Homo sapiens: one gene and its partners. The protein of the gene in region 1 purifies or fractionates together with the protein of each later gene. This does not show direct contact. Each region holds a gene or a part of one and is shown in the gene's direction. Other genes may lie near its edges. The genes, in order: LARP1, LARP4, SLK, CCNI2, DCLK1, SIPA1L1 and IPO9.

What was found.
Region 2: the proteins of LARP1 (region 1) and LARP4 fractionate together in Homo sapiens (co-fractionation; one large-scale study listed by BioGRID). This does not show direct contact.
Region 3: the proteins of LARP1 (region 1) and SLK fractionate together in Homo sapiens (co-fractionation; one large-scale study listed by BioGRID). This does not show direct contact.
Region 4: the proteins of LARP1 (region 1) and CCNI2 purify together in Homo sapiens (co-immunoprecipitation; one large-scale study listed by IntAct). This does not show direct contact.
Region 5: the proteins of LARP1 (region 1) and DCLK1 purify together in Homo sapiens (affinity purification with mass spectrometry, with the first as the bait; one large-scale study listed by BioGRID). This does not show direct contact.
Region 6: the proteins of LARP1 (region 1) and SIPA1L1 purify together in Homo sapiens (affinity purification with mass spectrometry, with the first as the bait; one large-scale study listed by BioGRID). This does not show direct contact.
Region 7: the proteins of LARP1 (region 1) and IPO9 fractionate together in Homo sapiens (co-fractionation; one large-scale study listed by BioGRID). This does not show direct contact.

The regions. Positions count from the first base shown.
Region 1 is NC_000005.10:154,814,377-154,818,105, forward strand, and holds the end of LARP1 (la-related protein 1), read left to right. Parts: 3' UTR 1-3,229; downstream 3,230-3,729. UniProt on the Homo sapiens protein: RNA-binding protein that regulates the translation of specific target mRNA species downstream of the mTORC1 complex, in function of growth signals and nutrient availability.
Region 2 is NC_000012.12:50,452,885-50,456,384, forward strand, and holds part of LARP4 (la-related protein 4), read left to right. Parts: intron 1-575; coding exon 576-788; intron 789-1,429; coding exon 1,430-1,533; coding exon of another isoform or gene 1,534-1,537; exon of another isoform or gene 1,538-3,500. UniProt on the Homo sapiens protein: RNA binding protein that binds to the poly-A tract of mRNA molecules. Associates with the 40S ribosomal subunit and with polysomes. Plays a role in the regulation of mRNA translation.
Region 3 is NC_000010.11:104,001,640-104,005,139, forward strand, and holds part of SLK (STE20-like serine/threonine-protein kinase), read left to right. Parts: intron 1-532; coding exon 533-1,888; intron 1,889-3,500. UniProt on the Homo sapiens protein: Mediates apoptosis and actin stress fiber dissolution.
Region 4 is NC_000005.10:132,752,665-132,754,903, forward strand, and holds the end of CCNI2 (cyclin-I2), read left to right. Parts: exon of another isoform or gene 1-201; coding exon 202-306; 3' UTR 307-1,739; downstream 1,740-2,239.
Region 5 is NC_000013.11:35,768,152-35,771,382, reverse strand, and holds the end of DCLK1 (serine/threonine-protein kinase DCLK1), read left to right. Parts: 3' UTR 1-2,731; downstream 2,732-3,231.
Region 6 is NC_000014.9:71,736,476-71,739,092, forward strand, and holds part of SIPA1L1 (signal-induced proliferation-associated 1-like protein 1), read left to right. Parts: intron 1-147; exon of another isoform or gene 148-294; intron 295-1,765; coding exon 1,766-1,850; intron 1,851-2,542; coding exon 2,543-2,617.
Region 7 is NC_000001.11:201,827,750-201,831,956, forward strand, and holds the start of IPO9 (importin-9), read left to right. Parts: upstream 1-1,407; 5' UTR 1,408-1,460; coding exon 1,461-1,623; exon of another isoform or gene 1,624-1,810; intron 1,811-4,207. UniProt on the Homo sapiens protein: Nuclear transport receptor that mediates nuclear import of proteins, such as histones, proteasome and actin. Serves as receptor for nuclear localization signals (NLS) in cargo substrates.

The DNA.
Region 1 (3,729 bases):
ATATATATATATCAAGTTTTAAATTATTGATAGTTCATCTGGATTACCAAAATCACTCTGCAGCCCTGCCCGAGGCTAGTAGGCTGCAACCCTGGTCCCCACCCCTAACCTCCTGCTCCCCCTCAAGCCAACTATGCAGCCCACAAGAAGGCCCTGCGGGCCCCCCCATTGCCCAGCACTGTCTCATAGAAGGCTCTGGTGGTACCTCTGGGCCCCAGGAGCATCAGCCCCTTGATCATCTGGGGTTTGTCATCACCATATTTTCTCCCTGCTGTTCCCACCATGCCCTTCTGCCATCTTCTGGGAGAAGGAAACCAAAGGATCTAAAACTGGGGTTTGGGGGAAGGTTTCAGCCTCTCCCCACTCCCCTTGCCCCACACCCTTTACTCCCCAGCCCAGAGAGACGCTGCTTTTACCAGGAAAGACTATTGAAAGATGTTTTATTTTATTTTTCTCTGACCTTTCCATCCTTGAAAAAATGGGGAAAAAAGAAGAAAAAAGACAAAATCGACCATAAAAGACCAAAAAAAAAAAAAAAATCAGAAAACCCCCACCTAATCCACAGAAAGTAATGTCTTTCCCCTCCCCTTGGAATTTTTGTTTTGTTTTTGGAAATAATATTTTTTTAAAAGTTGCCTTATTGTGGAGCGGGAATCTGAAATACCCAAATGCCTGTTTTCCTCGGTGGAGTCAACCCGAAGAGCTCCCACCTTCTCTGGATGTGCCTGGGCTTGGACTGGCTAGAATCTTTCTCTGGACTGTTGCATGTACAGTGCCTCCATCCTGGAGGCAAGAGAGTTGGGAGTGGCTCGAATCAGAGCCGTGCCCAAGATATCCCTGCTGTTGCATCGTTTGAAGCTGACGTCCTGTGTCTGTACACTGCTGCCACTGTTGTGTCCTCGCTCTGCTTGCTGTTGCCTCACGCCAGGCCCCGTCCTGCCGTGACACCCTTCATCCTACCCTTGGAACCCCAAGGCCAAGTTGGTTCAAACTGTTGGAGAACAGAGTTGGCCTGCATCTGGAACACACTTGTCCTCAGCTTACCATCTCCTCACACCCCAGAGTGGAAAGGTGAACACCTGCAGCTGAGGCTTGGAAACGTTTCTTGTGTTGCCCTGAAAAATCTTTGAGACCTCAGGGAGGCTCTGTCTCTCTTAAAAGGTGGAGAAAGATGCCATTCTCTCCCTAAGGTCTGGTGGAGTCTCCCCATCTTGCATACCCTTCTGCAAGCCATCTATCTCTGCTCACTCTCCAATTGACCCGCCTGGGAACAAGGGATGAGGAGGAGTTGGGGGCTGGGGGGAATCCTGCCAGTTGGTGAAGCCCTGTGGCAGGAAGGTATATGTGGACATAGAGTATACCTGATTCTCTTTCTTCAGCCACTGACTGCTTGGGTTGGGCTGTGAATGATAATGGAATGGCTGGAGTCTGCTGTTGTCAGAAGGCAGGGAGGGTGATGAAGGACTGACCCACATGGACTGGGATGTGTGTCGGTTATGGGCATGACTGCACGTTCACTCTCAGTGGGATCTGGGCAACATGGAGTTCATTGTCCTGTTGCTTACTTACTGCAATGTCTTTGGCCCTCCTTTTCAACTGGTTCCTCTGTTGGGCCCAAAGGTTGGGAGTAGGAGACAGTATCCCAGGCTGACAAGGGCTTGCCCTTTACCTTGGGCACCTTGTTAATTTTTAGCCTGTGCCCTTCCCCACCTTTGCCCTCCCAGTGGTTGGTATGTGGGAAGCCCATCTCAGTTCCTGTGACTTCATGTCTCAAACCAAGGATGAGCGTCTGGTCTCTGCTATGATGGTGGTATCCGAGGCCTTTCCCTGCCCAGTCTGGTGCCTGCCCCACATTGTACCGGACACTGGATTCCTGGACCCCCTTCTCCTTTCCTTTCTTTCCTTCAGGTCACGCAGCCCTGTACTGTATCCAGCACCACAGAAACCTCAGTGTTTTTCCTCTGCTGGTTTGGGGCACAAGGAAGCCTTAGGGTATGGGGAAAGGCTGTTATTACCTAGAGTTTACTCCCAGGCCAGGGGGCTGCCATCTTCTTCACAGACATCCCTGAAAGGAAGCCCCTTTGGGGCAGGGAGGTGAGGACTTCATCTCAACATCGGCTGGTGGTTGGTAGGGGAGCTTTTTCTTTTCTTTCCTTTTTTTTTGTTTTTGTTTTTGTTTTTGTTTTTGGTAACATGTTAGGAGTTAATGTTGCAAAGAGTAGTTTACATCTTCACTTTCTGAAGACACTTGAATTTAGGACCGATGTATCTGTGACAAGCATGCCAGAAGTGGCAGGGGCCATCAGGGCTAACCACTTCACACCTACCATCGTCCCATGGGGATCCAAGACCTGAGATAAAGCAACAGCCTGCCCAGATCCCTCTGTTCATCCTATCCCTTCCAAGGTTGGTCCATGCCAACATAACCTCTGGGCATCAGACATCAGCAGGTCTGTGTGCCTCAGCCCTGTTAAGGGGCAGGTTTCTCTTTAGCCCTCTTCCTGCACTTGGGAGCAAAGGCACTACCAGTAGAGAAGGGCCATCCAGCCGTGCCCCAGCCTGGACCCCTGGGGCTCAGATAGAGGTGCTGAGCCCCTGTGTCAAAGTTGTTAAATGTTTTTGTTTTGTTCCATTGTAGCTCTTTTTTTTTTTTTTTCCCCTTTCCTGGTGATTGATTTTACAAAAGAAAGTAAGCTGCTTAGAAGGCCCTGGAAGGGAAGTGAGGAGGAGGGACAAGGAAGATGACTAGTTACGGAGGGTGAGGGTTGTTTTTTGCCAAAAAGCCTGGGTAGAGTGATCTGAATTATCTGGCACCCTCCTGAATGGAACCCCAGAGTACCTCCTGTGTGGAAGGGTCCCTGGATTTTCCCTAACACCCACCCTCTCCCCCTTCAGCCATGCTGATGGCAGAGAAGATAAGAACTTGGAGCCCATTTCTCACTGGAGAGGAAAACTTGTCATCTGGCTTTGCGGAGAAGGTTCCACCTTACGCTCGTAGTACATTATCTTTACTATGTGCTAGGATATCATATTTAAAAGGACAAAAAAATGTAAAATACTTGAATGAGCTTGTATTATAACATTAATATTATTGAGAGTATCTGCTTTCCAGGCTGAAGTGATTCATTCATTATTCTAGTCCTGCTTTAGTCCTTTGTAATTTGTGGTAATTATGCTTTTCTTTTTAATACAAAAAAATGTATAAAAATAAACACTTGAAAAGGCAAAATACTGGCTGGTCTTCCATCTAGGTTACTGCTATTGGGTGTGAAGGATGGGTTTCTGGTAGAGTTCCCCCAGATCCGGAGGAACCCTGCACTCAATGTGCACATGAAACCTCGGCAGGGGTTCTGCCATTGGGCTTCGAGGAGTCTGCCTAAGGCAGGGGCTTCTACAAGCCTTGAGTTCATGTCCACCCTGTGTCTTAAGTGAGACGTGACAGTCATAGCCAGTGCCACAAAACAGCAGTCCAGCATAATGCCAGGATTTCAGCGCACTTGTCAGCTTCCAGGTTTTCCATCCCCTGGCTGTGGCCTGCATTGTGTTATGAGACAGCCAAGAAGAAAAACGATGAGGCTTCTTATGGAGGGTTGCCACAACCCCTCTATGAACAGACTTTTCCACAGGGGGGTGAAGGAGGAATGATCCAGCACCATGTGGACTTACGGAATCCTGGTCAGCCCCGAACCCTGAGATGTGATGCTGGGGAGGGATGGAACAAAGAGTCCC
Region 2 (3,500 bases), on another chromosome or scaffold:
TAGTTTTTTGGGAGGTTTTTACTCTGCTTGTTGTTGTTGTTTAGAGACAGGGTCTCGCTCTGTTGCCCAGGCTGGAGTGTGGTAGTGCGATCATAGCTCACAGCAGCCTCCAGCTCCTTGGCTCAAGCAGTCCTCCCCACTCTGCCTCCCAAGCAGCTAGGACTACAGGTTGCATGCCACCATGCCCAGCTTTTTTTTTTTTTTTTTCCTTGTAAGGGATGGGTCTCACTGTGGTACCCAGGGTGGCCTCGAACTCCTGGGCTCATGCGATCCTACCCCCTTGACCTCTGAAAGTGCTCAGGTTACAGGTGTGAGCCAGCACACCTGGTTATTTTGACGTGTGTTTGTGTGTGGCGGGGGGGGTTTTACCTTGTTTACTATGGTTTTTATACCATGAAAACGTTTTTATTATTTATTAATTAATTAAAGCTGTCATTTTCTTTTCTTTTGCTCTACTGATTCTACTGTAGGCAGAAATAGTATAGTCATGTAAAATATATGTTAAAATGTAAATTAAATGTATTTTTTAAAATATACACTTAATTCTTTGTTGCTATAATGTGTTCCTCTTCTAGGCAAGGATAAAAGCCATCAATACATTTTTTGCTAAGAATGGTTATCGATTAATGGATTCTAGTATCTATAGTCACCCCATTCAAACTCAAGCACAGTATGCCTCCCCAGTCTTTATGCAGCCTGTATATAATCCTCACCAACAGTACTCGGTCTATAGTATTGTGCCTCAGTCTTGGTCTCCAAATCCTACACCTTACTTTGAAACACCACTGGTAAGTGAGATCCTTACAATAAAATATAATAATATTTTTAATTTGAGCTGAAATTTGAAGAAATCAGTTGGAGTGGGAGCTCATTTATGTTGACATTGATGACTTTTTGGCCTTTATTTTATTTTATTTTTTGTATTTTTCGTAGAGATGGAATTTTGCCATGTTGCCCAGGCTGGTCTCGAACTCCTGTGCTCAGGCAGTCCACCCGCCTCAGCCTCCCAAAATGCTAGGATTACAAGCCACTATGCCCGGCCACTTTTTGGCTTTTAAACAGTGATATGGATATCTAATTCTCCATACCAAATAAATGCATATGACTAAGAGGTGAGCTATTAGAGCGCATAATTTTATTCCATAAAATTTGCTGAGTGAATTGAAAGAAGAGACTGGATAACTTTTGCGTGATTTTAAATGCATTTTAGTGTTGCGAAATGTCAGACCAGACATTCTTTACTAAGTTATGAATTGTTCATAAATCCAGTGGTACTTGAAGTGAATATTGCAGAAATGAATCAGTAAAATATTTTAAGATATTTTTGGCTTGTAAAAGATAAATTCATAAGCTCATTAAGGTTCTTGTGACCCTCACACCAGATTTTACCTTTGCCATTAATATTGTTTAAACATACATTTTTTTCTAGGCTCCCTTTCCCAATGGTAGTTTTGTGAATGGCTTTAATTCGCCAGGATCTTATAAAACAAATGCTGCTGCTATGAATATGGGTCGACCATTCCAAAAAAATCGGTAAGATAAAAACCATAGCTGTAATGTATTTTAAACAATTCCTAATGGATCTTAAGGCATTAATAGCAATGTTTGTTGTCAGGCTCAGTAATAAGGTTTGGTGGATTTTTTGTTTGTTTTGTTTTTACTAAGTGTATATGAACAGTTTAATCTAGAATTCGTAAAAACACTTTGACCTTTGAGTTGGTAATGCATGTAACAGACTTGGGATTCAGATTTTTTTTAATAATAAAAGAGAATAGAAAAAATATTTCATGACACCAGTCTCTGACAAATCTGGTGACTAATTTCCATTTAGTATGTTAAATGGGTAGCATTTTAGAGAATGAATTCTTTGAAGATATAAATGTTGTTAACTGAATTGTGTAATAAATGTTGGGATGTATGTTATTCAGGTTTTTAAAGGATTTTTGAAATGACACCCAAGAACTACAGTGCACAACAGACAGTAGCTAACATTTATTGCACATTTAATATCACAAACTCTGTTCCTAAGGGCTTTACATATTTTATCAGTTACTTTTTTCAGAACCCTTTATAGGTGCACTTATGTCTACTTTACAGATAAGGAATCTGAGATGTAAAATATCATGTCTGAGAACACACAGCTAGTAATTGGTAGAGCTAAGATTTGAACCTAGGCAGTTCAACTCCAAAGCCCGCACTTAAAGCACTATGTTCAGGATAAATTATTAAGAATCATAGAAACTATATGCTATCATAAAGATTGAGATGTATGTCTGAGGTATTTTTCTTTATGTAGACATCAACAGATAATCTCAATATTTGGTGTATGTTATGGCTTGTTGTTGTTGTTGTTGTGGGGGTAGAGACAGGGTCTGTTTATGTTGCCTGGGACGACTGGTCTTGAACTCCTGGGCTCAAAGCAGTCCTCCCACCTTGGCCTCCCAAATTGCTAGGATTACAGGCGTGATACTATGGCTTTTAACACAGTATGAGTAACCAAAGAATAAAGGACTGACATATAGTCATTTCGATTTATTTAATAGTTTCACATTTATTACTTCTCGTTTGCTGTTTTGTGAGACTCTTGGTTTTTGAGGGTTTTTCCTAATGGTTTATTTTCAGTGACAGTCTTTTGCCAGATTCGATTCTTCTAATTATTTCTTTTGGAAAGGAGACCATCTGGAGTATGTTTTTCCAAGATGACTTCTAGGAACTTAGTCCTTTTTTGACAGGTTTTTCTGAAACTTGTTTTACTGGAGAAATGAGCCCCAACAGAATGAAAAAATATTCTTCTCACTGGAAACATTGTGTACTACTCTTTAATAGTCAGAGTTTTTGGACTATTCTTGACAGACACAATTGGTTAAAGCAATTGAAGATCATTTTCAAGTGTTAGAAAAATTTTACTACTAAACATAAACACAGGCTGAGGTGGGTGGATCATCTGAGCTCAGGAGTTCAAGAGCAGCCTGGGCAATATGACGAAACATCATCTCTACCAAAAATACAAAAATTAGCTGGGCGTGGTGGTGTAGTGCATGCCTGAAGTCCCAACTACTCAGGAGGCTGAGGAACGAGAATTGCTTGAGCCTGAGAAGCACAGGTTGCAGTGAGCCGAGATCATACCACTGCACTCCAGCCTGGGTGACGGTGAGACTCTGTTATTCCCTGCAGCCACGCCCTCTCACCCCTCCCCGCTCCCCCCTCCAAAAAATAAAGGTACTGATATTTGCAGTTGCTTGACTCTGAAATACTTTACTTGGCTCCATGGTTATTTCTTTATTGTTACCTTTTATCCGTTGCATCTTTTTGGTGACAGCCAGGAATGACAGTCAAGTTATCTTTACTTATAAGGAAGTATACCTATGGTTTTGAAAATACATGGTGTGTTTAGTACATTTTTGCATGTTACTTAAAACCACTTGTGTACAGTTCTTTTCCATATATTTGACCAATACAGGTTGGTAATTTTTAATTACAGAAATAATTAGTGAATACTT
Region 3 (3,500 bases), on another chromosome or scaffold:
ATCTAAGGATTGATGGGTGGCAACGCAAAACCTTTAAATTTAGACCTGAAGATTAGTAGCAAGGTTGCTCGTCGCTGCACATTTTTGTTATATTTCCCTTTTTTTTGAGATGGAGTCTCACTCTGTCACCCAGGTTGGAGTGCAGTGGTCACTACAACCTCTGCCTCCCGGTGTCAGGTGGTTCTTGGGCCTCAGCCTCCCGAGTAGCTGGGACTACAGGCATGCGCCACCACACCCAACTAATTTTTGTATTTTTAGTAGAGATGGGGTTTCACCATGTTGGCCAGGCTAGTCTCGAACTCCTGACCTCAAGTGATCTTCCCTCCTCGGTCTCCCAAAGTGCTGGGATTACAGGTGTGTGCCACCGCACCCGGCCCATTTTTGTTATATTTCTTGTGAGAAGAATTGTTAATTCTTTAAATTCAGCAACATTTACTGAATAAAGATCTGAAATCACTGTAGGTCTGTAAACATTGTTTTGGTCACTCTAAGGTCATGTTTTAACACTAAAAATACATTAAATCTTTTTTAGCCAATACCTGCAAGTAAGCGTGCATCTTCTGACCTTAGTATCGCCAGCTCTGAAGAAGATAAACTTTCACAAAATGCTTGTATTTTGGAGTCTGTCTCAGAAAAAACAGAACGTAGTAACTCTGAAGATAAACTCAACAGCAAAATTCTTAATGAAAAACCCACCACTGATGAACCTGAAAAGGCTGTGGAGGATATTAATGAACATATTACCGATGCTCAGTTAGAAGCAATGACTGAACTCCATGACAGAACAGCAGTAATCAAGGAGAATGAAAGAGAGAAGAGGCCCAAGCTTGAAAATCTGCCTGACACAGAAGACCAAGAAACTGTGGACATTAATTCAGTCAGTGAAGGAAAAGAGAATAATATAATGATAACCTTAGAAACAAATATTGAACATAATCTAAAATCTGAGGAAGAAAAGGATCAGGAAAAGCAACAGATGTTTGAAAATAAGCTTATAAAATCTGAAGAAATTAAAGATACTATTTTGCAAACAGTAGATTTAGTTTCTCAAGAGACTGGAGAAAAAGAGGCAAATATTCAGGCAGTTGATAGTGAAGTTGGGCTTACAAAGGAAGACACCCAAGAGAAATTGGGGGAAGACGACAAAACTCAAAAAGATGTGATCAGCAATACAAGTGATGTGATAGGAACATGTGAGGCAGCAGATGTGGCTCAGAAAGTGGATGAAGACAGTGCTGAGGATACGCAGAGTAATGATGGGAAAGAAGTGGTCGAAGTAGGCCAGAAATTAATTAATAAGCCCATGGTGGGTCCTGAGGCTGGTGGTACTAAGGAAGTTCCTATTAAAGAAATAGTTGAAATGAATGAAATAGAAGAAGGTAAAAATAAGGAACAAGCAATAAACAGTTCAGAGAACATAATGGACATCAATGAGGAACCAGGAACAACTGAAGGTGAAGAAATCACTGAGTCAAGTAGCACTGAAGAAATGGAGGTCAGAAGTGTGGTGGCTGATACTGACCAAAAGGCTTTAGGAAGTGAAGTTCAGGATGCTTCTAAAGTCACTACTCAGATAGATAAAGAGAAAAAAGAAATTCCAGTGTCAATTAAAAAAGAGCCTGAAGTTACTGTAGTTTCACAGCCCACTGAACCTCAGCCTGTTCTAATACCCAGTATTAATATCAACTCTGACAGTGGAGAAAATAAAGAAGAAATAGGTTCTTTATCAAAAACTGAAACTATTCTGCCACCAGAATCTGAGAATCCAAAGGAAAATGATAATGATTCAGGCACTGGTTCCACTGCTGATACTAGCAGTATTGACTTGAATTTATCCATCTCTAGCTTTCTAAGTAAAACTAAAGACAGTGGATCGATATCTTTACAAGTAAGTGTACATGAGTCATTGTTTGGGTTTTCCTTTGCCATTTTCTCAATTCAGAGTTTATGTGAAATTGATGTCTTGAAAATAAAACAGCATTAAATTAATGTAGTATTAACAATATAAATTCTTACAGCCTATGAAAGCAATTAAAAAGAACTAAGGAGATTGTGGATCTAATCTTTAAATTTTGTGGTAGGATCTACCTATTTTTGCAGACCTGATGCAGATAAACAGTGTAATATGGTTGCTTGGTGTGATTAGGTTCCTTTATTGGACATATCTAGATGCAACATTAGCAAGAATCAACAATGTATGAGAGAATTAGAAATTGAAAGAATGATGTCTTTTTAAGCACATTTAGGGTGTAAACAATCCTTGATTTACCATTGGCCCATACAGTCACAGACATTGCTACTGCCATGAGAACCATTGTGGGGAAAACAAAACAAACACTAAAGCCCAGAACACTTGGAGCTTTGAGTGTAATTCTCAAATTTTAGTGTGCTTAGGAGTTACTAGCGGCTATGTAGAAGTCTGGAGTGGGTCCCAAGGATCACTATTTGTAAAAAAAAAAGATCCCACAGAGTTCTGATGCAGGTGATCCATGGGCTGCCCCTTGGAAAATACTTCCTAGACCCTCTGGGTTGATAGTAGCAGAAGAGAAGACAGAAAAGCAGGAACAACCTAAGAAAACTGACATAGATGGATCTCTAGGGCATGAGTGATTAGTCTGCCTATCTGCCCCAAATTCCTAGGATTTTCTTACATGTATTCCTAGGATTTTCTTCTTTTTTCAGTTTACTTTCTTTCACTGACTGAAATAACCACCACTCTGAAATTCATTCACTGACTTAATAGCCTCTTTTAAAAATGCAAATAACTTGTATAAGAATGAAGAAGATATTAATTATTGAACTTTTAGTAGGAGCTGAAGAAATGTGAAGTTTGGAGGTTAAGGTGTAGATAGGTGTATTTTTTGGAGTCTGCCAACTTTAGATTTTAGAGGAATCCTGGGTAGGGTACCATAGTCCTGGACTTTGGAAGAAGAGCATGAGGATCCTGGAAGCTTGGAGAAGAGAACAGTAAGAGGAGAGGATGCAGAAAGGTGATTGGAAGGTGCCAAAGAGAAACTGTTTAAAATTTGGATGCATTTTGAGTTTAGCATTTTCACATTCCATTTTTGCTTCCTCTGCCTTCTAACCCTTTCTTCCATATCAACACCCAGTAAGTATCTGCCCTGAACACTTAGTTTACCAAAATGTATTTGTAGGAGTCTTATATGTCTGTTATTTCTGTTTGCATTTAAATGTTTTTGGATACCAGTTGAGGAATGAAGAGTTTAGTCTTAATAAAGAATTTTAGGTCATAGCTAGCAGCCAAATCTGGTACTTTTGGGTGCAGCAGAGGCACTGTCTTTCTAGTAACCCTAAAATCATACATATATCTCTGGCCCTGAGATGGAGGGAGGGGCTGTCGATATTATTGTTACTGATTAAGTAGATTTTGATCCCCAGTGCTGGCAGTGTTTAAAAATTACCTGAGAGCTTTTTCAAAAAAAAGAGATTTCCAGCTACCCTCAGACCTGTCAATTTAGTTTTTTTTTAAGAGATGAGCC
Region 4 (2,239 bases), about 22 Mb from region 1:
AGGATGGAATGCATAGTTAGACTAATGACAACTTTACTGAGGTTGGAAATGGATGTCCCTGAGATGGTAGGATTAGTGGTCCTTAGTTGGGTGGTTGGACCTTCCTGAACTTGCTTCATGCTAACATTTTGGCACTCAATTGCCAATTTCTTAGAATGTATGATGGTTCTGCTTGAAGATGGCCACTCTATTCTAATACAGGTTGGTGATATGCAGTACAGCTGCTGCAAGGAACTTGTAATGCAGCAACTGAGAAGTCTTCAGTCATCCTCCTGCACAGACAACTTTGTGTCACCTGCCAACTAGCCCCTCTGCCTCCACCCCGGGGCTTTCAGAGCATAGTGTGAAACCTCCTTGCTTGGACTACCATGAGTTCTTTGGCTTGTTATGAATCCTGTAAAAAGGGAAGGTGGCTCTGGAAGAGCAACTGAGAAAAAGTTCCCAACTGAGCCCTTGGAAAAAAAATAAAGGGGAGAGGGGAAAGGCAGGCTGAGGTCAGTAGAGGTCAGGGTGGTCTGATAGACTATGACCCTGTCTTCCCTTTTTCTCCTCTGGGCCTGAAGCCAGGGAGTATGAATGAATGTTCAAATGGCAGCTTGTTTTACCTTCCTTCTCCAGCAAGGGTTGGCATTGGCCCCTGGGAGCGCTGGAATATGAAACCAAGAGGCAGGCCTGGCTCAGGGCTGAAGGGCTGGGGCTAGCTCTGACCAGTTCTTGCTGCTCTACCTGCCAGAGCTGGCCAGGTCCTTCCAACTTCCCAGGCTTATCCCAAACACATATGTGGTGCTTCCAGTCCCAACTACCCTGCCTGCCACTCCTCACATGGGACAGTCTCTGCAGATGCATTTACCCAACCATGGCTATGACTTATGTCTTCCCTTTACAAGGACTGGATTATAAAGTATGCTTTGTTTAATGTAACTTGAGCAAGCTTTAGGCATATCTTTCCTTTGTTACTCTTAAGCAAAGTGGTTTCAGTTATTAGTTTAACTAGAGGGATTTTGTGCTAATGAATGGGTATTATAGGCTAACACCTGTGATGGGAGGCACAGCTCTGAATGCTTTCTGTTGGGATGAGCAGGTTCTGAGGCCAAGCCTGCTCCAACCACAGTGCTGCCAGGAGGAGGAGCCGGCTGCCTCTCTCATGCTGTGCTACCACAGAGCCATTCTCTAAGCAGGGGAGTGCAGCTGACAAAGATGCCAGCTGGGGCTGTGTAAGTTGTGTTGGGGGCATGAATGACTGAGCCACACATTCAGAGGTGGTTTGTGAAGTCTTCCACTGTGAACTATGGTTTTTTTTTTTTTTTTTTTTTTTTGGTGTGTTTGTGTAAATGTGCTAAGCCATGGGGTGGGAGGGGAAAGATTTACTAGGTGCAAAGTGGTCAAGGGCCAGATATACTATAATTGTCTATATTATAGAGTTAGTATACATCTGTATTTTTTCTTGACACACTTTTGCTTGTTGGTGCTTTCGTTAAAATTACACTTTAATTGCTTCCGATCCTGTATGAGTCTTATTTTGAGCTACCATGCATTTAGCCTTGCGAGAGTCAGATACATTTGGAACACTATCTCCTAGGTCATATCAAGAACTCTCCTCTAGTCCAGAACCCATTTTACAGATGGAGATGCTGAGGCCATGCTGCTCACAGCTTCCAGTGGTGGCCGTTGAGTGCCCTCTGCCTCCTTCCTTCCAGTGTAAGTGGGACCACAGTGCATGAGGCAGAAGGACATCCTGAGGGCCCATACCAGTTTAGGCATCCCAGGCTTTAGGGGAACTGCTGGAAGACATCTGCTGCTTAACCAGGTGGCTATGGATGTGAGCTGGATTCTGAGAGCTGATCCAACTCAAACCTCTTGGAGAAAGCAGAGGGTAGACATGTGAGTCCTAGGACTGGGGTAAGAGACAACCTTCTGCTCTGGCTTTCTATAAATGATAGAACTCTTCTATAGGGAAGCTCACTTTTGTATTGCCGAAGTCCCACTCGTGGATTTTTAAAAATCTTATGTGCTTTTCAAGCTTGCCGTGGGGCCCCAGGTCCCATCCTACTTCCCTCTAATATTCTTTTCTGACATTAGGAACTCCTATCCCACCTCAACTCAGAGATTGGGAAACATTTCTCAGGGAGAAATATGGATACAATCTATTTTCCTTTTGACCCCAGCTATTGAAAGGCAGGGATTGGTGAAGGAATGAGGCTGAAGAAAATGGAGATGGAAAAAGCTCAGAGGCAGATGC
Region 5 (3,231 bases), on another chromosome or scaffold:
AAATAAGCAGAGAAAAAAAAATGTGAATAAACTACTGAAAACACTTGGTGTTTTGTGTTCAATGAGACCTTCCTGCAACCTGCTCCCCATGGGTGGCAGTTAACAGGCCCATCAGATATTGTTGAAAGAAAGCAATATATCCATGAATGAAGGCTAAAATTGCAATCCTTTACCCTTTGAGGCATATTTCAGTTGAAAACAAAAAGAAAAGAAAATTTGGCTTAGAGGGTCACAGAGCTCCCATATGACCAAGTCTCAAGCACATTAAATCATGGTTGTTTACTGGCCAAGGGCGTCCACTAGACAACTCTATCCCTTGCGCTGAAGCTCAATCGTGCTGAGGGAGAGCTTTCTTAATATTACTGTGTTGCTCTTAGCCCTTCTCTGGGTTAGGATCTGTCAGCATTTCTATGATAAACTCCTATTCTCAAAGGTTTTTAATTTGACCATAAAAATGTGCCCCAGGCTGAAGTTTGCTATACAGGGCTGTACCAAAGAGTGAAGGTTTACTTCCTTCTCTTTCCAACTTCTTCCCCATTCTCCAAGGAAAAGAACAACAAAAAAATCTGGTATGGTCCCTCCTTAATAGTGATTTCAGAATTTTGGAAAGCACCAAGATCCAAGATGGTAGTTTTAATGTAGTTACTCATTCGCACACATTTTTTAAATTTAATGGGTCACCTGGCATATATTGTAGATAACATATCTTTTCTATAATTTGTAAGTCAATAATTTTTTTAACTGCTACATGATATTTTTTTTTGCCCAAAGATTTTAAAAGACTTGAAGTTGGTCAGTTCAAAACTCAGATTTTTCTACACATTGTCTGCCATGTCCATTAGGAGTTTGGGGAAAATACTCTCACACAGACCCTTACTTTGCATGCAGTTTAGAGGGTAAGATACGTGCTTCTTTTGGGGATAAAGATTTCCTTACTTAATTGTCAAATTTCATGGAGCCATTCTAGTCTGTTGGGGAAAATAGTGATTAAAAGCACTTCCAAAATTAACATTTTTTGACAATTCAGATATGAAAAGAAGCAGGGGAAAATAATACACTTTACTCTTTTCTTGCTTAAAGGCAAACAAATCAATGAAACTTGAGGACACACTAAACATTTGATAACTGCAAATGTGCTTTAAAAATTGGTTCAATGGTGCTTACACATGAAACGGTAACAAATGGGGTTCCTAGGACGTCAGAAGGAATCTTTAGTTTGTATGTAATTACACACTAGAGGAGGAGGTGCTTTTAAGCCAGTCTTTTATTTTTAATCATCTCAAATATGCAACCATACATGCAGTAACATTAAGGGTCGTAAACTGGTGGGAAACAGGAACTTCAGTGGAGAGGCTTAAATGCCTCTGGTTAGAGTGGGGGTTTTTGTTTGTTTGTTTATTGTTGGGTTTCAACACTGAGCATCATTTCTGTGATCAAGTTTCTAACTGGCATGTGTTTTGATCATGAGGTTTACCATATCTTGCCCATACAGACAAATGAGAGATCTAGTTTCATTTTGTTCCCTAAAGAAAGAACACTCTCTAAAATTAAATCATACCTGTAAATTTCTTCAGCATTTGTTTCTGTTCAATGAAATTGAGACCCTTAATGTTGCTTTAATGTAAAATTGAATATTTTGTCTGTGATATACTTTAATAATTTAAAGTAAGTAATAGTTCTAAAGTCTTCACTGTTGCTACTAAGAGAAAATAGAATTTTAAAGGTGATGATAAAGATGCTATAATGTCAGTTCACTCCAGTCCAATCAAATGTAGTAAGAAAAAGTCCTTGAATAGTTCTCTAGGGACAATTTCTCACTTGCCATTGACATTAATCTTTGGTGTATTCTCAGAAAAAATAAAAAGAAATTGAAACTGGTCCAAGGTTATAGTCATATCCTCGATAACTTTTGAAAAAAAATTTTATTAGGAAATTAATACTAGCCTTTTTCATTCTGGCTGAAAGAAAATTATTAAAGGATTAGTTGAGTGTGAAATTCAACAGTATTTTGCTCATACATACTAAAAAGGTGCGTAGGGACTTGGCGCATTTAAACAAGTTTCTGAAAGGTTTCAATTTGACTCAAGAAAAAAATTCAATATTTCTTTTGAAAATACTGAATTTATCACTTGCTGCATGGATCAGATGGCATAGGTTAATCTTTGATTTTCAGAATCCTAATGAAATAACTTTCAAACAATTTGTGTCCTTAATTAAAGGTGGAATGAGATCCAATTTTTCCCCCTAATCCTTCAGTTTAAGCTGATACATGTAGGTTAATGTGGAATGAAATCATCTGTGATATATTATGTTCATTTATCAACTGAGCTTTTTTGATGTTGCCTGTTTTTATGTAAAACATGTTCTTAAAGTTAATAAAATAATAGTACTTGGTGTATGAACTACTACATAATACCTTAGCTGAAGGGTACGCTCCTCAGTTCATTTGCCATATTGGAGTAAAATTTCACCTTAGTTCAATTCACAATTGACACATTCAGTTCACGAAGGAATAGCCCAGCTGTGTTCTTAGGGGGAATTCTCTCTATGCAAGGCTTTAAAAATTAGTCATGCGGTCAGAGTGTAGCTTTCCCACATGTCCTCCATAGCACAGTGTGTATTTCATGAGCATAATTCAAAAACAGCTATTTCAAAAATGTCCCTTGTCATATATTACGTTCCTGCCTGGGCCACTGACTTGGATAAATACAAATAAACCAAATACCATTCAGCCCTATTTTATCCTTCAACCTACGTGCACAGGCTCTCCAGAGAAGGGTGTTGTTTTATCCACTAACCTGTAATTAGCTGCCACTTTTGTAGCAATTTCCCATTAGGCATTCCATGTGTAATATTGGCCTTAGAGAAAATTGCAAAACTGTACAATGGATTTAAGTTCTTTCCTGTCGAGCTTTTCAATGCTAGGAGATTGAAAAGTCAGCCAGCAAAAGTGACTGCAGGTTCCCTGGTGTCCTATGAAGGTGCCAGAATATCTCCAAGTGCCTGTAAAATTAGCAGTCACCTTCCCTGCCATCCACAGGCTGCTGCTGCAGCTGCTGTTCTCCCTTTTGCTGTACTGTACTGTCGTGAAGTCACTGGGTCCTTTCTAGACTCTCTGGCAACTGCTGGGAAACAATAGCTAAAGTGATTACTTCCTAAAGACCATTACCTTGTTTTACGAGGCTGGCAGCTCTGCCAAAAACCTGCCATCGAAAACCTGGGCCTTGGCGT
Region 6 (2,617 bases), on another chromosome or scaffold:
GAAAGCCAATTGAAGTAAATGGCACAGATAAACTGGGGCTTGCCATTGAGGACTTCTCTGAACAAGTCTGCAAGGAAGTGCTCTCAACGAGAAGGCACAAGAATAGGGGATCATTTGTTATGAGTATAGGAGAGAGGCCGCACTTACCTCTGGCACTGCTGGGGTGAGGAGAGCAGCAATCAGGCTGACTGCTGAGAACTTTAAAAATGCATATCCCAGAAGCAAGCCCCAAATGTGCCTCGTTAGGAAGGAGCCTCCAACAGAGAGAAGTGTGAGTGAGCCAAGACTGTTTTCCTGTGAAAGGATTATTAAAAAATCAGCAGATGAGGGTGATGACAGGCTCTTTTCTTGGGTCAGCATGGACTGAACAAATGGAAATGGAGGTGAATAGACAGAATGCTCCTGAGCGTTGCTGCAGTCCTGATGAGCTGCAGTGGCTTTGCGAAGGATACCACTGCTGCCCGGCCCCAGCCTCGTTGTGTCTGTCCAGCACCGCCCCTTTTCTACCACATCCGTGGCCTTCAGCCCACCCAAAATCGGACCAGCCTGCCGTACCATACTATGCGGTTATGGACTGCAGCTGACCATGTCCCTTCTCAAACCCATTCATTGTCAGCTTTTCATTGGCCTTCCTGCCTTAGAGATTGGAGGTCATGGTCACTCCATCAGCCCACAGCCTTGCCACACTGTACACCACGGTGGGTTTTGCCTCCTGGGGCCTCTTGTAGACTTAGGATTAGCAGAAGACATCAACACAGTTCATCTGAGGTCAGGAATTGTAACTTGAATCTTTATTTTTAAAGTAAAGAATACCTTTTACTCCGTGACCTAGAAAATTCGGAGTCACTTAGCTCTTTCCCATTGGCGCTGGGAAGAGGCTCTGCATGTTTTCCCGATGGAAGACTTTGGGTTCTCTGTGGTGTGCCCCTGAGGATGTATAGCTTGGCTAGGAATCAGGAAAATTTGGCAGCTTGAACTCAGGTAGAGGAGAGTGTGGCAAGAAAAGTTGTCAGTTCCTCAGCCATAGGACCCTCGGGGTGAGAGCGTGCCCAGCCATGCCGTCTGTCTAGCTCGCTGGCTGGCCTGCCGTACCCCAGCTCACACTTCTTTCGGTACTCCACTAGCACGGCATGATTAGCGTGCCATAAACAAAAGAAAACATGAGAAAATGAGAAGAAAATGGTTTTTTGATCAGACTGGGACAGAATTTAAGACATTAAGCCTAGGCTAACAAGATACTTAGACCAGTGGTTTAAGATGTAGGCATGATACCTTAGCTGCAATTGCATGAGTAGCTAAGACCACACACTTGGGACCAGAGACGACCTGCCTATCACATCAGCTCCCCAGCTTCCTTCCCACACACAGGGGAGTAACTCCTCTGTCAAAGCCCACTAGAGAGATCCCAGAGCCTCCCTGGGAATCATTTTACTGTTTGACAATTATATCTGCCAGAAAGTACCTCTTGTGCTGCCAAAGAGACCATTTTCACTATTGTGCTTCATTCTTTAGTCGTGAGGATGCAGCATCTTTAACAAAGGAAGCTATTGATTGGCTGCAGTTCAAGCTTTTATTACCTTTTTTTAAGACTACCATTTTCTTTTTTAAAGTAAAAATACTCATTGGGTCGCCATACTGAGTAATTTGACATTGAAAACCATTTTATAAATACAGCCTCCTCAGAGTAAAAAAAAAAAAAAAAAAAAAAAAACAAACCCAGCCATGGAGGCCCCTGCCAACATGGTCTTTTGTTTCTTGTTCCCAGCAGTAAAGACTCCTCTCCCACTCTGGCTTCTAAAGTGGACCAGCTGGAAGGTATGCTGAAGATGCTTCGGGAAGATTTGAAGAAGGTAAACATGTATTCTCAAAGCAAATTGTCCAGTCTGTACAAACTACCCTTGAACCATGAGAGCCCTTTCTAAGTAGCATGGTAAAATAAGACGTGGGTGTCTTCCCGGTGCCTGCATGTGTTTGGGGATGCAGGGATTTCAGTTGCCACTGGAACACACAGCATGAGGAGGCGTTCGGTGTCCGGTGTACAGAAAAACTGTTCAATAATTTGTGAAAGGCTGTGAACCTCAGCCAGCACCATCTGGGTCCTCTCCCGGCCTCCCCACTCCTTGTGTAATGTGTCAGTAGCCCAGACCCCCATGTAGTCGGTGTTATTGGGGCTTTTGCACCAAAAGAACTGAATGTTTTGTTTTTTGGGTGGCCTTGACTATATATCAAGACATCAGCCACCAACACAATTGTCTAAAATTTAAGACAATCCTGACTAACAAGGATGTTAAAATACACATTAATGTACTTACATTCCAGGATTACTTAGAGCTAATCCTGCAGGGTTGAATCTCTCTAGAAGCCCTGCTCCCTGAGCTTAGAGTGTCTTAGCACCTGATACCAGTCCGTTTAGACAGGTGTTTGGAGGAACGAAGAATAGAAATGGACAAAAGATCAAAACGGGTCCATAGCTATTACTCAGAAGAGCTGGGCAAGGTGGGGCCAACACCTCTTAGCTTTTCTACTTCACTCTGCCTCCCAGGAAAAAGAAGACAAAGCTCACCTTCAGGCGGAGGTGCAGCACCTGCGAGAGGACAACCTGAGGCTACAGGAGGAG
Region 7 (4,207 bases), on another chromosome or scaffold:
TCCTGGGAACCATTTTGAAGGCACATAACCTGAACAGCTCACTAAAAAATACCTGTTTCTGTTTGCTCTAGAACCTCCCATTCCAACAACATTCTATCCTTTCTGCCACTACATGCTTGCCACTCTGCCCTGCATTTTTTTTAATTTTTATTTTTTTTTATAGACAGAGTCTGTATATCTTGCCCAGACTGGAATGCAGTAGCTATTCATAGGTGTGATGACAGCACACTACAGCCTGGAACTCCTGGGCTCAAGTGATCCTCCTGCCTTGGCTTACATCTTGCTTTTTCTTCTTTTTCTGAGACAAGATGTCACTCTGTCGCCCAGGCTGGAGTGCAATGGCGCAATCACTGCTCACTGCAGCCTCCTCCTCCTGGGCTCAAGTGATCTTCCCACCTCCACCTCCCGAACAGCCGGGACTACAGGGCGTACGCCACCACGCCTGGGCAATTTTTGTATTTTTTTGTAGAGACGAAGTCTCGCTATGTTGCCCAGGCTGTTCTCGAAATCCTGGGCTCAAGCGATCCTCCTGCCTCGGCCTCCCAAAGTGCTAGGATTAGAGGCGTGAGCCACTGCGCCTCGCCACACCCTGCATTTTTAACACCTCACTGGAGCGCTCATCCTCTCCACCTGCTCCGCTATTCAGGAGCGGCTCTGCACCGTAGGCCATTTCCCACGACCAGCTGCTGACAACCATATCATCAAACTGCTCTTGTTCTCGCACCCCTTAAATGTCCAGCCATAATTTCTCAGGGAAAAAAATTTATACATTTTCAACAAATAGGATTCATTCTCAAATAGTCACATACAACACTCACTCTGGAAGAAACTCCCTTTCACATGCCGGTGTCTCCCCTGCCCAGCCACTTCCCAGCTTTGAGGTTGGGCTCATCTAGGCTGGAAAACCAAGGGACTGGGCCGTGGTTTTCCCACTTCCACTTCCCAGTTTGCTTTAGTTTATTTTCCCCCCTCTTTGGATTCCTGAGGCTAAGATGAAGAGAGTCACTTGAGCCAACTTTTTTTCAGTGTTTGGGGGGAAAAGAATGTGGTTTAAAATAGGGGCTATTTGTGACCCAGACCTCTCTCCTTAAAGCCCTCTACATCTATTCCCATCCCGCCTCCTCTCTCCTAACACCTGAAAGATGCATGAATATAAAGTCATATATCATGAACTTTATTCCAAATGAGATTGCTAACTTACTGTGCAACTTTAGGAAAGCCCCTTAACCTGTCTGGGGCTCAGTTTTCACACAAATCCAGAGATCCTTGCAGAGAAAGGTGCAGTTCTCGTTCAGGCAGCAGGAGGCGCTGTCTCTGGAGGCTTAGATTCATTCCCCGCCCTCCGCCCGCTCCCGCCCGCCTCTGGTGCGCAGGCGCGGCTTCGCGGATTGGCCGCGCGCGGGGGCCGTCATTCGGTGGCGGGTCCCGGCCGCGGGGCTGGCGGGCTGAGGGGAGAAAAGATGGCGGCGGCGGCGGCAGCTGGTGCGGCCTCCGGGCTGCCGGGTCCAGTGGCACAAGGATTAAAGGAAGCGTTAGTGGATACGCTCACCGGGATCCTATCCCCAGTACAGGAGGTGCGGGCGGCTGCTGAAGAACAGATTAAGGTGCTGGAGGTGACGGAGGGTGAGTGAGGCGGGACCGTCACGAGGATGGCTCAGCCGCACAATCCGCTGACCGCAGCTCCGTACCGGCTGGGGACATGGGGAGCCTGAGCCAGTTGGAGATGTGGGCGCCGAGAAGTGGAGCAGGAAGCGAGAGATTGATGTCGCTGGTGGTTGTGAAAGTCCGAGAGAGGAGAGGCGCGCCTGAAGGATAGGGTCGGGGGAGGTGGAGCCTGGGAGTGGGGGAGGGAGGGTGGAGACTTGAAAAGATAGATGGAGCCTAGAATCTGCAGGGGACGGAGATGGAGCTAGACTTGGTGCTGTTGGAGGAAGTAGCGCGGTCGGGGAAATATTTTTTGAGTCCAGGACCAAAGTCTTTCGCTGTTCTCTTCACCAGCTGGATTGTACTGGGATAAGAGTAGGGGGAGCTATTAGTAGGAGTGGTGAAGGGTAGGGCCTCGAAAAGGCGGCTATCAAAGCTTAATAGATGTCATCAAACAAGTTTCTGCCTCTGAGTTATAAACCTAGCTAGTTGTTTGTACTCTTCGTGTTTTCCCAGAAATTAAATGCATATGCGATTGCTTCACTGTCCTGACCATACTTAACGTTTATTTTAAAAATAATTTGCCCTTATTAAATACCTTTGTGCATTTCTGTTTGGAGGAACTGATCATCCTTTGTTTTTGATTCTTTGTCTCCGTCCTCTATTGTGTGCTTTAAAGTGATGGAGAAGAAAATAAACCATTGGTTCGAGATTTTCTATCAATTTCCTGCCGCGTGAGCCTTTCACCGGGTCCAGTGTAGCTACCACAAAGAACAATTTAATCCAGAAACAGGAGGAGAAATCTTCTTGGTCTTTGTGTAAGAAATATATCTGGTCAGAGCTTCACTGGAACTCCAAATCCTCAGAATCTCCCAACTCAGGAATATTTCCACCACCACTTAAATACTTCATCAGAGATATGGGAAATTGTCCCATCACACACCCATCATATTCAAAACCTTCAGTTAGCTCTCCTACTGGACGTATTTCTATTGAAAAGAATTTAGAACAAATCTCTCTTAAATTTAGTTTACATTCTTTCACAGTATGAAAGAGCTGTTGAAAACAAATTTTCTTCTGTTGGAAATATGTTAAGATTTGGGATCTAACAGGCTAAGGACCATTTTGAAGGCCCACTTGTAATTGTCATTGTTTTATAAAATATCAGATCTATACAGGAGAAACCACTGGTTAGGAGAAAGCTGTTTGAGAACCATGTATAAACTAATCTAAAGGAATTTTTAGCGGCTTCTAAATAAAATTCGTTTATGCACATTAATGTCTGTCCCCCTTGAGTATGAGGAAGGAAGAGTGACAAAGCAAAGGAACCTCATCACATTCAAGTTGTCACCTGAATAAAACTTGAGAGTCTGGTGCAAATTCATCTTAACTAAACCTTCCCTGAGTGGTACCCAGTGCTCCTGGTGCTCCAAATGCATGTCTGGCACCTTTGTATGAAAGGTGGACCTTGACTTGTATTTAAACTGTCTTACAACAACTCCACTTTTGCTCTGATCTTTTCAACTTTAGCCAAATGCCATGGTCTCATCTGGGCAAAGTCAATTATAAAGTTCTCGAGGTCTTTTTTGAAACTCTGATTCCTCACTTTATTCATCTTTTTTTTCTTGAGACTGGGTCTCGCTCTATCGTGTAGACTTTGGAGCAGTGATGCCATCATGGCTCACTGCAGCCTCAAACTTTTGGACTCAAGCGATCCTCCCACCTAGGCCTCCCAAAGTGCTGGGATTACAGGCCTCAGCCACCACACCTGGCATCTTTTTGAGCCTTTAAGTGAAAAATTAAATTTCAGAAGTACAGAATTTTGATCTAAGTCACTGATGAGAAATAGATCGACTGCCCCCCGACCCCCATAACTTACTGGTAATGTGCTGTTGGGCAGACTATGAGAATGAAAAGTATGGAAAGGCATCGATGCAGTGACCTGATATTGGTGATCTAGTAATAGAGCATATGACTCAGGTTTTGGATTTGGTTAGAGGGTTGGATCAGTCTCTGGAGTTTAGTGCAATGCTTCGGACCCTTTGGAGGCTGCTTGTGTCTTTTAAGTAGTCTGGCTCCTTAATGTCTATCAAAAAAACTATAGAGATTTACCCCCTTCTGTACCTGTTTTAAGGTGGAGAATGGCGGTCCATTCCCTCAGATGCGGTCTGCTTTCTTCCTCTTGTGGCCTTTAACAAGTTATCTTTGACATTGGGTTCAGAGTACCTCCCACCTTAAACTCTGTCTGAATCTCTCAGATGTTTTCTGAACATGGTGCAATATAGTAGCTGCTTCTTTACCAGCCTCAACCCTTCTTTACATGAAAACATAGAACCCAGCTTTCCAGCCGGGATTTAGCCAACTATCTGGCCTGATGAAACTGGCAGGACATGGTTCCTCCTATTAGAATGCCCTACAGAGCAAGATGAGCCATTCTTGCAAACTACTTTCCACTTCTTTGGTGTTGCTTCACATTTTAGTGTTTTTTGCTTTTGTTGTTGTTGTTGTTGTTGTTGTTGTTGTTTTGAGACAGAGTCTCAGTCTGTCGCCCAGGCTGGAGTGC